4 linked regions of the Homo sapiens genome follow. The protein of the gene in region 1 interacts with the protein of each later gene in a biochemical or structural test. Each region holds a gene or a part of one and is shown in the gene's direction. Other genes may lie near its edges.

The links.
Region 2: the proteins of UBE2L3 (region 1) and AREL1 form a complex in vitro, tested with the Homo sapiens proteins (4 studies listed by BioGRID).
Region 3: the proteins of UBE2L3 (region 1) and HERC3 form a complex in vitro, tested with the Homo sapiens proteins (3 studies listed by BioGRID).
Region 4: the proteins of UBE2L3 (region 1) and ARIH1 form a complex in vitro, tested with the Homo sapiens proteins (18 studies listed by BioGRID and IntAct, with this or other methods).

Annotation. Positions count from the first base shown.
Region 1 is NC_000022.11:21,619,688-21,622,368, forward strand, and holds part of UBE2L3 (ubiquitin-conjugating enzyme E2 L3), read left to right. Parts: intron 1-1,827; coding exon 1,828-1,982; 3' UTR 1,983-2,681. UniProt on the Homo sapiens protein: Ubiquitin-conjugating enzyme E2 that specifically acts with HECT-type and RBR family E3 ubiquitin-protein ligases.
Region 2 is NC_000014.9:74,678,432-74,682,202, reverse strand, and holds part of AREL1 (apoptosis-resistant E3 ubiquitin protein ligase 1), read left to right. Parts: intron 1-3,771. UniProt on the Homo sapiens protein: E3 ubiquitin-protein ligase that catalyzes 'Lys-11'- or 'Lys-33'-linked polyubiquitin chains, with some preference for 'Lys-33' linkages.
Region 3 is NC_000004.12:88,651,358-88,655,128, forward strand, and holds part of HERC3 (probable E3 ubiquitin-protein ligase HERC3), read left to right. Parts: intron 1-654; coding exon 655-731; intron 732-1,511; coding exon 1,512-1,733; intron 1,734-2,684; coding exon 2,685-2,776; intron 2,777-3,771. UniProt on the Homo sapiens protein: E3 ubiquitin-protein ligase which accepts ubiquitin from an E2 ubiquitin-conjugating enzyme in the form of a thioester and then directly transfers the ubiquitin to targeted substrates.
Region 4 is NC_000015.10:72,596,208-72,599,978, forward strand, and holds part of ARIH1 (E3 ubiquitin-protein ligase ARIH1), read left to right. Parts: 3' UTR 1-3,771. UniProt on the Homo sapiens protein: E3 ubiquitin-protein ligase, which catalyzes ubiquitination of target proteins together with ubiquitin-conjugating enzyme E2 UBE2L3.

The DNA of each region.
Region 1 (2,681 bases):
TTTGTTTTATTTATTTACTTTTGAGACAGAGTCTCGCTCTGTTGCCCAAGCTAGAGTGCAGTGGCACGATCTCGGCTCACTGCAACTGCCGTCTCCCGGGTTCAAGCGATTCTCCTGCCTCAGCCTCCTGAGTAGCTGGGACTCTAGGCATGGGCCACCATGCCTGGCTAATTTTTGTATTTTTAGTAGAGACGGGGTTTCACCATGTTGCCCAGGCTGGTCTTGAGCTCCTGACCTCAGGTGATCTGCCTGGCTAGCATTTGCATTTTAATCCATTTCTTGTAATGCTGAATGAACAATATGAGCCCTTAATAAAGGAATTGACCAGGTGCAGTGGCTTCATGCCTGTCATCCTAGCACTTTTGGGAGGATGAGGCGGTAGGATCACTCAAGCCCAGGAGTTTGAGACCAGCCTGGGCAACATAGTGAGACCCCATCTCTACAAAAAACTAGGCCAGGAGCAGTGGCTAACACCCGTAATCCCAACTACTCTCAAGGCCAAGGTGGGAGGATTGTTTGAGCCCAGGAGATAAGACTGCAGTGAGCTGTGATTGCACCACTGTACTCTAGCCTAGGTTAAAAAAAAAAATTAGCTGGACGTGATGGCATGTGCTTGTAGTCTCAGCTACTCAGGAAGCTGAGGCAGGAGGATCATTTACACCCAGGAGTTTGAGGGTACCGTGCAGTAAAGTATGATTGAGCCACTGCACTCCAGTCTGAGTGACAGCAAGACTGTCTAAAAAAAATAAGAAGGAATTTGTGGCATCAGCAGTTCGGAGAAGAGGGGCACTGTTTTACAGTGGGAAGGAACATTCTGAGGGTGCTGGTCCTGACAGGGTCAGGGGGCAACTGTGGCAAAGTATGTGAGGAGGTGTGGGTAGCAGCTGCTTCTGATTCCCCACTATCCTTCCACCCTGGGGCACGTCTGGGCTACGGCACCTAGGGGGAGTACTGTGGCACCCATCAGAGCCATCAGCGTGACATCTGCCTGTGGTCTTGACAATGTGATGCGATGGCGGTTGTCAGCTTCCCATTGGCTGGCCCCAGTGACCCTTTCTAGAGGGTTCAGAAACTCCTAAGGGTCTTCCAGAGTTGGGTCATTGCGCATTGACAAGTGCAGCGCCATCACATACCCTTCTCTCTAGTGCCCACTCAGTCACCTTAACCGAAACTTCCCTGAGCCGAGCATGGTGCTGGGTGCTGGGCTGATGCAGGGAAGTTCTACCCGGTCCTGCCCTGAAGAAAGTGACCCTGTGTGCATGCATGAGAGTGAGCAGTCAGTTCAATACTAGGCCTCCTATCTCCAGAGTACACAAGAGGACTGGATTAGCCGGGCATGGTGGTGCACGACTGTAGTCCTGGCTACTTGGGGGACTGAGGCTGGAGGATTGCTTGAGGTCAACCCAGGAGGTTGAGGCTGCAGTGAGCCAAGATGGTGCCACTGCACTGCAGCCTAGGTGACAGAGTGAGACCCTGTCCCTCCTCCCCAACCCCCCGCCAAGAAAAAAGGGCTGGGAGTGACTGAGGGCTAAGACCTCCCCAGGTGTTAGGTCAGGAAGGCTTCCTGGAGGCGGAAGCACATCACTGTGAACAATTATCCACTGTAGTGTTAGCTATTTGTTGTCCATCAGTGTCTTCTAATCACAGAGGAAAGATGAGTTTTCTGGCAGTCAGAATTTTGGATAAATAGGAGGCAGCTTTGGCTTAAAAGCACATTAGCTGTAAATCAGTTGTAAAGCCAGAGTTTTGTTCCCGGATTAGCTGCCTCTTGCCTGTGCCATTTCTGAGACTGTGTTAACCCCCCATGCCTTGTCCTTCTCTTGGCAGTAATCCAGTCCCTCATAGCACTGGTGAATGACCCCCAGCCTGAGCACCCGCTTCGGGCTGACCTAGCTGAAGAATACTCTAAGGACCGTAAAAAATTCTGTAAGAATGCTGAAGAGTTTACAAAGAAATATGGGGAAAAGCGACCTGTGGACTAAAATCTGCCACGATTGGTTCCAGCAAGTGTGAGCAGAGACCCCGTGCAGTGCATTCAGACACCCCGCAAAGCAGGACTCTGTGGAAATTGACACGTGCCACCGCCTGGCGTTCGCTTGTGGCAGTTACTAACTTTCTACAGTTTTCTTAATCAAAAGTGGTCTAGGTAACCTGTAAAGAAAGGATTAAAAATTTAAGATGTTCTAGTTCTGCTCTCTTTGTTTTAAAAATCACTGCTTCAATCTACTTCAAAAGAATGGTGTTTCTTTTCTTGTCCAATTTTATCCAAAATCTTCAAGTTACATTTAACCCATAAGGTTTAAAAAAAAGGAAAAAAAACGGTTGTGGTTCCCTTTCTTCCCTACCCTTGCCACTCCCACTTTCTGGCACCGAGTTTATTTTTCACTTACTTACTTCCCCAGACCCCGGGCTCGCCTCCACAAAGGAGAAGAGACTGCCCTGGCGGTCCTGGTGGCTTTTCTTAGCATGTGTGGCACTGTTGCCCAGTGTGGGAGTTGGTTTAAATTCTCCTGACTCCAGTTTATAACATCCTTTTAAAAAATTTAAAAACAAACAGCCACACCCCTCCTCCAGTCCTTCTCCTCAGTTCTTGTGTGAAACTCCAGCTGATGTTACCACAGTAACATCAGTTAATTGGGCAAGCCCTGATGTCAGTGTGTGTAACTGACCTCTGGCCTGGC
Region 2 (3,771 bases), on another chromosome or scaffold:
TAAGGCTCTGGACAAAGTGGCTCTCAAGCCGTCTCTCTTTCCATGTATCCTCTCCTTTGCTTAAGTGCCTCACTCAGATACTCCTTTTCATATGAATTATCATCACCCACCTCTTTGCCACCAGTGGAGAACAGCTCATACCCTTACATGTACCAGCCTTTTTAAAAAAATTAAACTTTTTATTTTTTGATAATTGTATATTCATATGCATTTGTAAGAAATAATGCAGAGATCTGGTGTACCCTTTTCCCAGTTTCCTGCAATGGTAACATTTTCCAAAACTACTAGTACAGTATAACAGCCAGGTTATTGACATTGATACAGTCAAGGTACAGAACATTTCCATCATCACAAGGATCCCTTATGTTGCCCTTTTACAGCCACACCTATCCCCCCCAACCTGTTTCTTTCTTTTTTTTTTTTTCTTTTTTTTTTTGATGGCGTCTCGCCCTGTCGCCAGGCTGGAGTGTAGTGGTGCCATCTTGGCTCACTGCAACCTCCAACTCCCTGGTTCAGTGGATTCTCCTGCCTCACGCTGAGTAGCTGGGATTACAGGCACGTGCCACCACGCCCAGCTAATTTTTGTATTTTTAGTAGAGACAAGATTTCACCATGTTGGCCAGGATGGTCTCGATCTCCTGACCTCATGATCCGCTCGCCTCAGCCTCCCAAAGTGCTGGGATTACAGGCATGAGCCACCGTACCTGCCCCCCATCCCCAACCTGTTCTTAACCCCTGGCAACCCACGAATCTATTCCCCATTTCTATAATTTTGTCATTTGAAGAATATTATATAACTAGAATCATATAGTATATAACCTGTTGGGGTTGACTTTTCCTCACTCAGCATAATTTTCTGGAGATTCATCCAGGTTACTGAGTGTATCAGTAGTTGGTTCCTTTTTACTGCTGAGTAGTACAGGTTGAGTATTCTTCATCCAAAATGCTTGGGACCAGATGTGTGGTTTTGTGGTTTTTTTCTCTCCAAACGTGGTATAGGAATGTTTTGTTGTTTTTGAGACAGGGCCTTGCTCTGTCACCTAGGCTGGAATGCAGTGGCAGGATCATGGCTCACTGTAGCCTTGACCTGTTGGGCCCAAGCAATCCTTCCACCTCAGCCTCCCAAGTAGCTGGGACTACAAGTGTGCACCACCACGCTCGGTTAATTTTTTGATTTTTTGTTTTGTAGAGACAGTCTCATTATGTTAACCAAGCTGGTTTCTAACTCCTGGCCTCAAGCAATCCTCCTGCCTTGGCCTCCCAAGGTGCTGGGATTACAGGCATGAGCCACTATGTCTGCCTAGAAGTGTCTTGGATTTTGGATTTTTGGGGGTTTTGGAATATTGGCAATATACTTACTTACCACTTCAGCACCCTAGGCCAAAAATCTGAAACCCTAAATGCTTCAGTGAGCATTTCCTTTGAGTATCATGTAGGTACCCAAAATGTTTTGGATTTTGGAGCATTTTGGATTTCTGGTTTTTGGATTAGGGATTCTCTACGTATATTCTGTGGTCTGAATGTACCAGTTTGTTTAACTATTCATCTGTTAAAGGTCATCTGGGTTGTTTCCATTTGGGGGCTATGATGAATAAAGCTGCTATAAATATTCACTTACAGGTTTTTATGTGAACATAAATTTTCATTTCTCTAGTATGCAGTTGCTGAGATGTATTGGAGTTGTATGCTTAGTTTCTTTTAAATTGCCAAATTCTTTTCCAGAGTGGCTGTAGCATTTTACATTCCCACCAGCAATGTATGAATAATCCAGTTTCTTCACATCCTTGCTAACATTTAATGCTGTCATTATTTTTTATTTTAGCCATTGTGATAAGTGTGTAGTGGTATCTCATTGTGCTTTTAATTTGCATTTCTTAAATAGTTAATGCTATTGAACATCTTTTCATGTGCCTGTCTGTCATCTATGTATCCTTTGGTGAAATGTCTCTTCGTGTCTTTTGTCCATTTTCTTTTCTTTTCTTTTCTCTTTTCTTTTCTTTTCTTTCTTTCTTTTTTTCTTTTTTTTTTAGACATCCTTGCTCTTGCCCAGGCTGGTGTACAGTGGTGCTACCTTGACTCACTGCAACCAACCTCCTCTTCCCAGGTTCTGGCAATTCTCCTGTGTCAGCCTCCTGAGTAGCTGGGATTACAGGCAGGCACCACCACGCCTGGCTAATTTTTGTATATTTTGTAGAGACAGAGTTTTGCCATGTTGGCCAGGCAGGTCTCGAAATCCTGAGCTCAAGTGATCCACCCCCTTGGCCCCAAAAAGTGCTGGGATTACAGGCGTGAGCCACCACACCTGGCCCTTTTGCCCATTATCTAATGGGATTATTATTATTTATTTATTTATTTATTATTATTTTCTTTTTTTTGAGATGGAGTCTCGTTCTGACGCCCAAGCTAGAGTGCAATGGCACAATCTCAGCTCACTGCGACCTCCGCCTCCCATGTTCAAGCAATTCTCCTGCCTCAGCCTCCCAAGTAGCTGGGATTACAGGCATCTGCTATCATGCCTGGCTAGTTTTTTGTGTTTTTAGTAGAGATGGGGTTTTGCCCTGTTAGACAGGCTGGTCTCAAACTCCTGACCTCGGGTGATCCATCCACCTTGGCCTCCCAAAGTGCTAGGATTACAGGCATGAACCACCGTGCCCGGCCCATTTTGGCTTTTTACTGTTGACTTTTGAGAGTTCTGTATATATTCTATATGCTAGTCCTTTGTTAAACATATGGTCTGCAAATATTTTCTCCCCATCTGTAGCTTTTCTTTATTTCTTTTTGGAGACAGGGTATCACTCTGTCACCCATGATGGCGTGCAGTAGCATAGTCATGGCTCACTGCAGCCTTGACCTCTCCCGGCTTAGGTGATCTCCCATCTCAGCCTCCCAAGTTGCTGGGACTGTGGCATGTGCCACCACACCTGGCTAATTTTTATATTTTTTGTAGAGATGGGGCTTTGCCATGTTGCTCAGGCTGAGCTTTTCTTCTTATTCCCTTAACAGAGTTATTCACAGAGCACATGTTTTCAATTTTGATGAAATCCACTTTCTGAGGTGGGAGAATCACTTGAGCCCAGGAGTTCAAGACCGGCCTGGGCAACATAGTGAGACCTCATCTCTACAAAAAATTTATAAATTAGCTGGGTGTGGTGGCGTGCACCTTTAGTCCCAGCTACTGGGGAGTAGGGTGGAGAAGTGAGGTGGTAGGATAACAAGCCCAGGAGGTTGAGGCTGCAGTGAGCTGTGATCTTGCCACTACACTCCAGCCTGGGTGACAAAGTGAGACCCTGTCTCAAAAAAGAAAGAAAGAAATCCAGTGCATCCATTTTTTTCTTTTATGGTCAAACTGTTGGTGTCTAAGAAATCTTTGGTCTCAGATCCTGAAGATGTTCTCTTTTTTTCCCAAAAGTTTTTACAGTTTGAAAATGTGTATTTAGGGTCATGATCCATTTTTAGTTAATTTTAATAGATTTGGGTCAAGGTCCTCTTTTTTTTTTTTTTTTTTTTGCTTATACATGTCTTTACTCCAGCATCATTTGTTGGAAAGGTGATCTTTCATTTTCTATTACATTGCTTTTGTACCTTTATCAAAAAGCAGTTGGACATATTTGTGGGGGCTTATTTCATTAATCTGTGTACCTATCCCTCCTCCAGTACCACAGAATCTTGATTTCTGTAGCTCCCTCTTCTTTTCTTTTTTTTTTTTGAGGCAGGGTCTCACTCTGTCACCCAGGCTGAGTGCAGTGGTGCGATCATGATTCACTGCAGCCT
Region 3 (3,771 bases), on another chromosome or scaffold:
GTATTGTGGAAAGTAACATAGCTTTGATGTCAAACAAGCCTTGGATTCCAATACTGGCTCTTTTACTTGTAAGGTGAATGACCTTGGGCAGGTTAACTTTTCTAAGCCTCAGTTTCCTAACTTAAAAATTACTTACTATGTACCTTACAGGGTTATGGGGAGGATAGAAGGAGACAAGTAGGTAAAATACAGTATGTGCTTGCACTGTATGGACTCCCTCTTCCCCACCTCAAGGGTACAATTTCTCTATTATCTGTCTTTGTTCTTCTGACCTGCTTCTTTTCTACAACTGATTGTGACAAGAGTAATGGTGATGGGGAATTGTTGAAGCAATTCTCTGCCTCAGCCTCCCGAGTAGCTGGGATTACAGGCATGTGCCACAACGCCCGGCTGATTTTTTTTGTATTTTTAGTAGAGATGGGGTTTCATCATATTGGCCAGGCTGGTCTCGAACTCCTGACCTCAGGTGATAAGCCCACCTTGGCCTCCCAAAGTGCTGAGATTACAGGCGTGAACCACTGTGCCTGGCCTTAAAAAGACTTTTAGGCAAGATGGTGTTATTTATTACTGACATTTTATTTAATTGGGAATATTTCTGATAATTGTGTTTGTGTGTGAATATCTATCTGAAAAAGAAAGCCTTTTCTGTTTTAGGTTAATACAAAAGCTGAACCAGCAAACAATATTACAAGTTTCCTGTGGCAACTGGCATTGCTTGGCTCTTGCGGCTGGTAAAGTAACATTAAACATATGCTAATGCTATGTTAATTTTGAAAACATTTCTCTTTGTCTTTTTGTGTGATATTATCTAACTGAAAACTTTGAATTAACTGGTTAGGGTCTATGCATTGCTGTTGGACAGTGACAATTCTCATATGGGCTTTGCATAGCTCATCCTTTTCTCAGGGTGTGGGTGATGAAGTAGGTGGTCATCATTGCTGCTCCAACTTTCACAGGGGAAGATAAGCAGGGGGCAGGACCATACCTAGGTGTTCTGAGCATGGAGGAGATTGATTTTTCTTAGCGACAGCCAACTCTCAAGCTACATTCCACTATCAAGCTCCCAAATGAATGAAAAAGAAGGAGTTGGAGAAACCTAAATAAATCTGCACTTCTGTGTCCTGCTTGATTATCTGCAGAGCAGACCAAGTGGTCATTGCTGGACCTCCCGAAGTCTTGGGTCTCATAGTCTTAGTGTGGTCAGAACTAGTGTGATCTTGCTTAAGCCTGGTAATTGGCCTGTCCGAAATTGAATTTACTTATACATTTAATATTTTCTGTGTATAAATTTTAATAGCCTTTGAAGGGCAGTAAGACTCAGCTTACCTCTCTGTTATATCACTTGGGAGTTTTGGTTTTGGCAGTCTGATAGCATGAAGTATCTCTGTTCCTTTGCTCTTGGGTGGGTTTGGTGTTGGGGGGCAACTGGCAAATGACCCTAATAACTAGATTATTTTTGTGTGTGGAGCTTGTATCATTTTATGGTAATACCAGTTATCCTGTTATTTCAGATGGCCAGTTCTTCACCTGGGGAAAGAACAGCCATGGGCAGCTTGGCTTAGGGAAGGAGTTCCCCTCCCAAGCCAGCCCACAGAGGGTGAGGTCCCTGGAGGGGATCCCACTGGCTCAGGTGGCTGCCGGAGGGGCTCACAGCTTTGCCCTGTCTCTCTCAGGAGCTGTTTTTGGCTGGGGGATGAATAATGCCGGGCAGCTAGGGCTCAGTGATGAAAAAGGTAGGTAAACCCTTCATATGTATGTATTTAGTTTAAAAGCACATTCATTTAACACATGCTTCTTGAGGATCTACTATGTGCTAGCCCCATGTGAGATACTAAGGGAGAAGCAGTGAACACAATAGAGAACATCCTCGTCTTAGTGGAGACTGTATTCTAGTGAGTAGAGGTGCAACAAAACCAGTAAATACACAGGATTTGAGAGTGCAGCTTCCTGCTTTACATAAGGTGGTGGGGAAGGGCCCCTCTGATAAGAAAATGTTTGAGCAGAACCTGTAGGAAATCAGGTGGGAGATGGGACATGTAAATGTCTGGGTGAAAAATGTTCCTGTCAGAGAGAACTGGGTGTGCAAAGGTGCTCATGTGGGAAGAGATGTAGTTGGAGAGAAGGGGAAGAGTAGCACAGCTGCAGGTCAGAGAAGTCGTGTAGACCCAGTTATGCAGGGCCCTGAGGGGCAGGGTGAGGATATAACTGGTTTTCTCAGTGAGAGGGGAAGACCCTGAGGGTTTGGAGGAGAAGCGTGATCCACTTTGGCTTTGGCTGTAGTGGGTCAAGGGGGAAGCTGGAAGACCAGCTTGGAGGTTGTGGGAGTAAAGTCAGATTTTAAACATATTTTGAAGATGAGGCCAGTTGGTTTTGTTCACTGTTGGATGTGTGGTTTGAAATAAAGGAACAGCTGGAAGGGCAAAATGACTGTTTCTGAAATGGGGAAAACCGTGTGTAGTAAAGTGAGCTGGAGAGTGGGCAGGGTTGGAGAGTGTAGGGAAACCATGAGGTAGGTTTTAGGTAAATTAAAACTGAGAAGTCTGTTGGATATCCAAGTACAGATGCAGGCAGGAAACTGAACATGCGTCAGGAATCCAGGAATCCAAAATTCATGCCAAGATAGTTGTGTATATTTCATCTCAAAGGCAAATGGTAGTGATATTCTGATATTTAATTTATTCTAGATCGAGAATCTCCATGCCATGTAAAACTCTTACGCACGCAAAAAGTTGTCTATATTAGTTGTGGAGAAGAACACACAGCAGTTCTCACAAAGGTAAGGAGCTCAGAGTATTTTACTTTGGTGCTGGGGATATGATGGGTGATTAGAATTGCTTGATTATGTTAGTGTAGTGATGGTGTGTGATTACAGTATTGTGGCTTGAACTTGAATGCTCTCTTTTATGTGGGTTTGTTGTTTTCCAAAGGAATAGAAAAAGACTACTTTTTTGTATGTCTCTGTTATCCTCTTTGGTAATCTTGTAGATTTTTCATATATATATATATATATATATATATATATATATATATACACACACACACATAATGTAGATTATATATATATACACACATATAATGTAGATTATATAAAAATGTAGATTATATATATAAATATAATGTATATATTTATATATATATAAATTCCTTGGTTCTTTATGGAACAAAGACAGCACTTTGTTATTTTTATTTGTTATTTTATGTATATATAATATATATAAAATGATGTCCTATGTTCCTTTAAAACAAGTCATTTAAATATGTAAAAAAGAAACAGCAATTTAATTAATGTTTTAAAATAATCATGTTTCTTTTGCTTCTAAATACATTCTAGAGAGAATGAAAATGTATTTTTATATTGAACAAATATTATTCTACGTTCACTTTGATAAAATGCCTTAACATTTATTTAAATACAGCTGTTAAAAAAACAGCTTACTTACCAAGGAATTTGTAGAGCACCTAATTTCTTACATGTGAATGATCATGTAAAATCATCTCATTTAGCCTAGCTCCTAGTTTCTCCTTTTTTAAAATTTTGCTTCCTAACACATCATTGTACTTTCAAACGATTTTAAAAATTTACAGAAGGCACACATTCCTTTGAGCATTGCTATCTTTGTTCCATAAAGATGCAGTCTGAAATTCCCTTTTTATTATTTTTCTATTTAATGAACATCCTTACAAAGTGATTTTGGCCAAGTGTCAAGTGAATGTAGTGCTCTTGTGCACATTGTTGTGATAGGCATTTTGTATACAGGGTTTAGAGGTATA
Region 4 (3,771 bases), on another chromosome or scaffold:
GGGGTATTTTAGTTGGATATAGGACTCTATGTTGACCTTTTATTTCTTCTTTCAGTACTTTAAAGAAGTTATTTTATTGTACTCAGGCCTCATTTGTTTCTGGTGAGAAGTCATTCATCATTTTAATTTTTATTTCCTTTCCGTAATGTGTGGTTGTTCTCAATGGCTGCATCTGTGCATTATATTTACTTTTCAGTAGATTGACTAGGGAATGTCTAGGTATGTTTTTCTTTGTATAGAGTTTACTGAACTTCTTGGATCTGTGTTGATGTCTTTCATTAATATTGGTTCTTTCTTGGCCGTTATCCGTTTACATTTTTCTCTTGTCTCATACTCTCTTGCTTCTCCTCTTCTTTGGAGATTCTAGTTACATGTATATTAGATGATTTGATATAAACCTACAGATCTCAGATGATTTTTCCCCTGCCCTGTTTTCTTTTTGTTTTCAGTTTGGATACTTTCCATTTAACCATCTTTAAGTTTTTTGATGCTTTCCAATGTTAACCTGTTAAACTTGTTTATTGAATTCTCCATTTAAAAATTTTTATTTTTAGTTATTTATGGATACATAGTTGTACTGAATTATTCATTTCTAATATTTTTATTTCTAGCATTTCATTATATTTGTATAGTTACAATTTTCTGCTGAAATTTCCTATTTCTTCATGCATGTTTTCCACATTTTCCATTCTACTTTTTAGCATTTTAATCAGTTATTTTATTGGGTTTTTTCTGTTTTTTCTTTCATTTTTAATCAGTTATTTTAAGGATCCAAACTGATAATTCAACATCTGGGTCTTTTCTAGTTCTGCTTCTATTGAGCCCTTCCTCTCCCTTACCATGAATCTTATTTTCTTGCTTTTGCACGTCTTGTATATTTGATTGGATGATGGACGTTTTATGTTGAAAAAAAAAAGAAATTGAAGAAAATGTTTACTTCCAAAACAGAGCATGCCCTTTGTTTTTTTTTCAGGCCACTTGAATGGTGGCTCAATCTGATGTATATGAATTCTAGACTGGGGCTTCACTGCAGTTTTAGTTTGATTCAGTTTGCCTCTAGCTTCAAATATTTGAAGGAACGTAGAATCAGAACTCTCATATCACCAGGGCCTGAGTTTTGGGCATTGGCAAGATTCCAGAGATCTGACTTTGCTTCATAGCTAAGCCACCAGCTTTTATCAATGTGGGAGATCTTTCCCTACTTTACAACCTTGCTGCCAGGATTTTTTTTTTTAATCAATGGGCTGGGGATAGGAGGATCTTTCTCAGCTCTCATGTGTGCCCTGCCCTTTTGTAGAGGAATGCCCACAATGCCTAGGGGATGGGTTTCTCAGCATTTCTGACCCCATTTAGGCTCCAAGAGTGCCTCTGTTGGATTTCACAACAATCCTGCCTCCCCTTTCATTTTTAAAGGGTATTTTGCCCTTGGGAGAAGTCAAGCTCTCTCAGCGTTCCTTCTATTATCCACACCTTTAGTGTACTACACCTTCCTGTACCTGGTTATCATCTAAGGGGTAAGATTGGTGGGAAGCCTTCCTCTGTGGATTTGGGTCATCTAGGTTCTAATGTCAAACCAGCCTCCAAGGGGTTGTGAAAATGTTGTTAAATTTCAGCAGGTTTCTCTTTTCTCCCCCCTGTAGTATTCCTCTTCCTACCATAGTTCAACTAGGAATAACAACAGCTAGGGGGTCTCTTCTCTCCTATGAAGGACTTGGCACTTTCTGGAGTTTGGATCATTTAGGTTTCTTTGGTTTTTGTTTTTATTTTGAGACAGGGTCTCACTCTTACCCAGCCTGGAGTACAGCCTGTAGTGATCTCAGCTCACTACAACCTCTGCCTTCCTGGCTCAGTTGATCCTCCCACCTCAGCCTCCTGAGCAGCTGGGACTACAGGCGTGTACCACCACACCCGGCTAATTTTTGTATTTTTTGTTGAGATAGGGTTTTACCATGTTGCCCAGGCTGATCTCAAACTTCTGAGCTCAAGCGATCTGCCTGCCTCAGCACCCCAAAGTCCTGGGGTTACAGGCATAAACCACTGCACCCAACCTAGATTTCTTTGTGTCCTTAGCTTTCTGATGAATTAAACATATGTTTTATTTTCTAGCTCATCTGGCCTTTTGTTGTTGTTTGCTAGAGTGGGAGGTATATTCCTTGTGACTTTGTTCATATCACTAGTGAATTTCAGAAGTAGGAGTTTATTTTTTTAATAAAAAATTTTTTTAGGTCAGGCACAGTGTCTCATGCCTGTAATCCCAGCACTTTGGGAGGCCGAGGCAGGTGGATCACCTGAGATCAGGAGTTTGAGACCAGCCTGGCCAACATAGTGAAACCCCAACTCTACTAAAAATACTAAAATTAGCCAGGTGTGGTGGTGGGCGCCTGTAATCCCAGCTACTTGAGAGACTGAGTCAGGAGATTTGCTTGAACCTGGGAGGCGGAGGTTGCAGTGAGCCGAGATTGTGCCACTGCACTCCAGCCTGGGTGACAGAGCAAGACTCCCTCTCAAAAAAAAAAAAAAAAATTTTTTTTTAAACACGTCTCACTGCCACCCAGGCTTGAGTGCCATGACATGATCATAGCTCACTGCTGGCTTGACCTTCTGGGCTCAAGTGATCCTCTTGCCTCAGCCTCTTGAGTAGCTGGGACCACAGTCATGTGCCACCATGCCTGGCTTTTTTTTTTTTGTAGAGTTTGGGTCTCGCTATGTTGCCTGTGATCCTCCCACCTTGGTTTTCCAAAGTGCTGGGATTAAAGGCATGAGCCACCATGCCTGGTTAGGAATGGGAGTTTAAACAATGGTTTTATTTACATATTTCATTAGCTAGTATTTTTTTCTTTTTTGAGACAGAGTCTGGCTCTGTTGCCCAGGCTGGAGTGCAGTGGCACGATCTAGGCTCATTGCAACCTCTGCCTCGTGATTCTCGTGACTCAGCCTCCTGAGTAGCTGGGATTACAGGCGCCCGCCACCACACCCAGCTAATTTTTGTATTTTTAGTAGAGACAGGGTTTCACCATGTTGGCCAGGTTGGTCTCCAACTCCTGACCTCAGTTGATCCACCCGCCTCAGCCTCCCAAAGTGCTGGGATTACAGGTGTGAGCCATCGCTCCTGGCCTCATTAACTGTTTTCAAAAGTAAAAGTACATGGATAATACAAAGTTAAATTTTGTAGAATCATAAAGAAAAGCAACACCTTCCCATCTTAACTCCCCTAGTGCCTCTACTCCCTCCACAGAGACAAATATCTTACCAGTTGGTTGTGTTTTCTTTTCCAAACTGTATTTCTAAAATGTGTCAATATCTCTTCCTTTTATTTTTTATTTTTTGTAGAGACAGGGGTCTCACTGTGCTGCCTAGGCTGGTCTCAAACTCCTGGCCTCCTACCTCGACTTCTCATAGTTCTGGCGTGAGCTACTGCACCTGGCCTCCCCCTTATTATTTTTTTAAACATGAATGGAAGCATACTATATTTTCTACACTTTATTTGTTTTATGTAACTATTTTAACAACCTGAGGACTTTTACAGGCTGCATAATATGTCTTAATATGGATGTATCTTAGTTTATTTAAACAGTTACTGGTGATGGACATTTCCATGTTTCCAGTATTTTTTCTCACAAACAATGCAGTATTATGCCTTTGTCCACATTCACCATTGATTGCTATTGAGTATATCTGTAGCATCAAGAATAGGCATACTGAAAATCCTCCATGAAGTCCAGTGAAGCTTCATATTATTTTGAAGTGATATTTCCCAGTGTTGGCTGGACT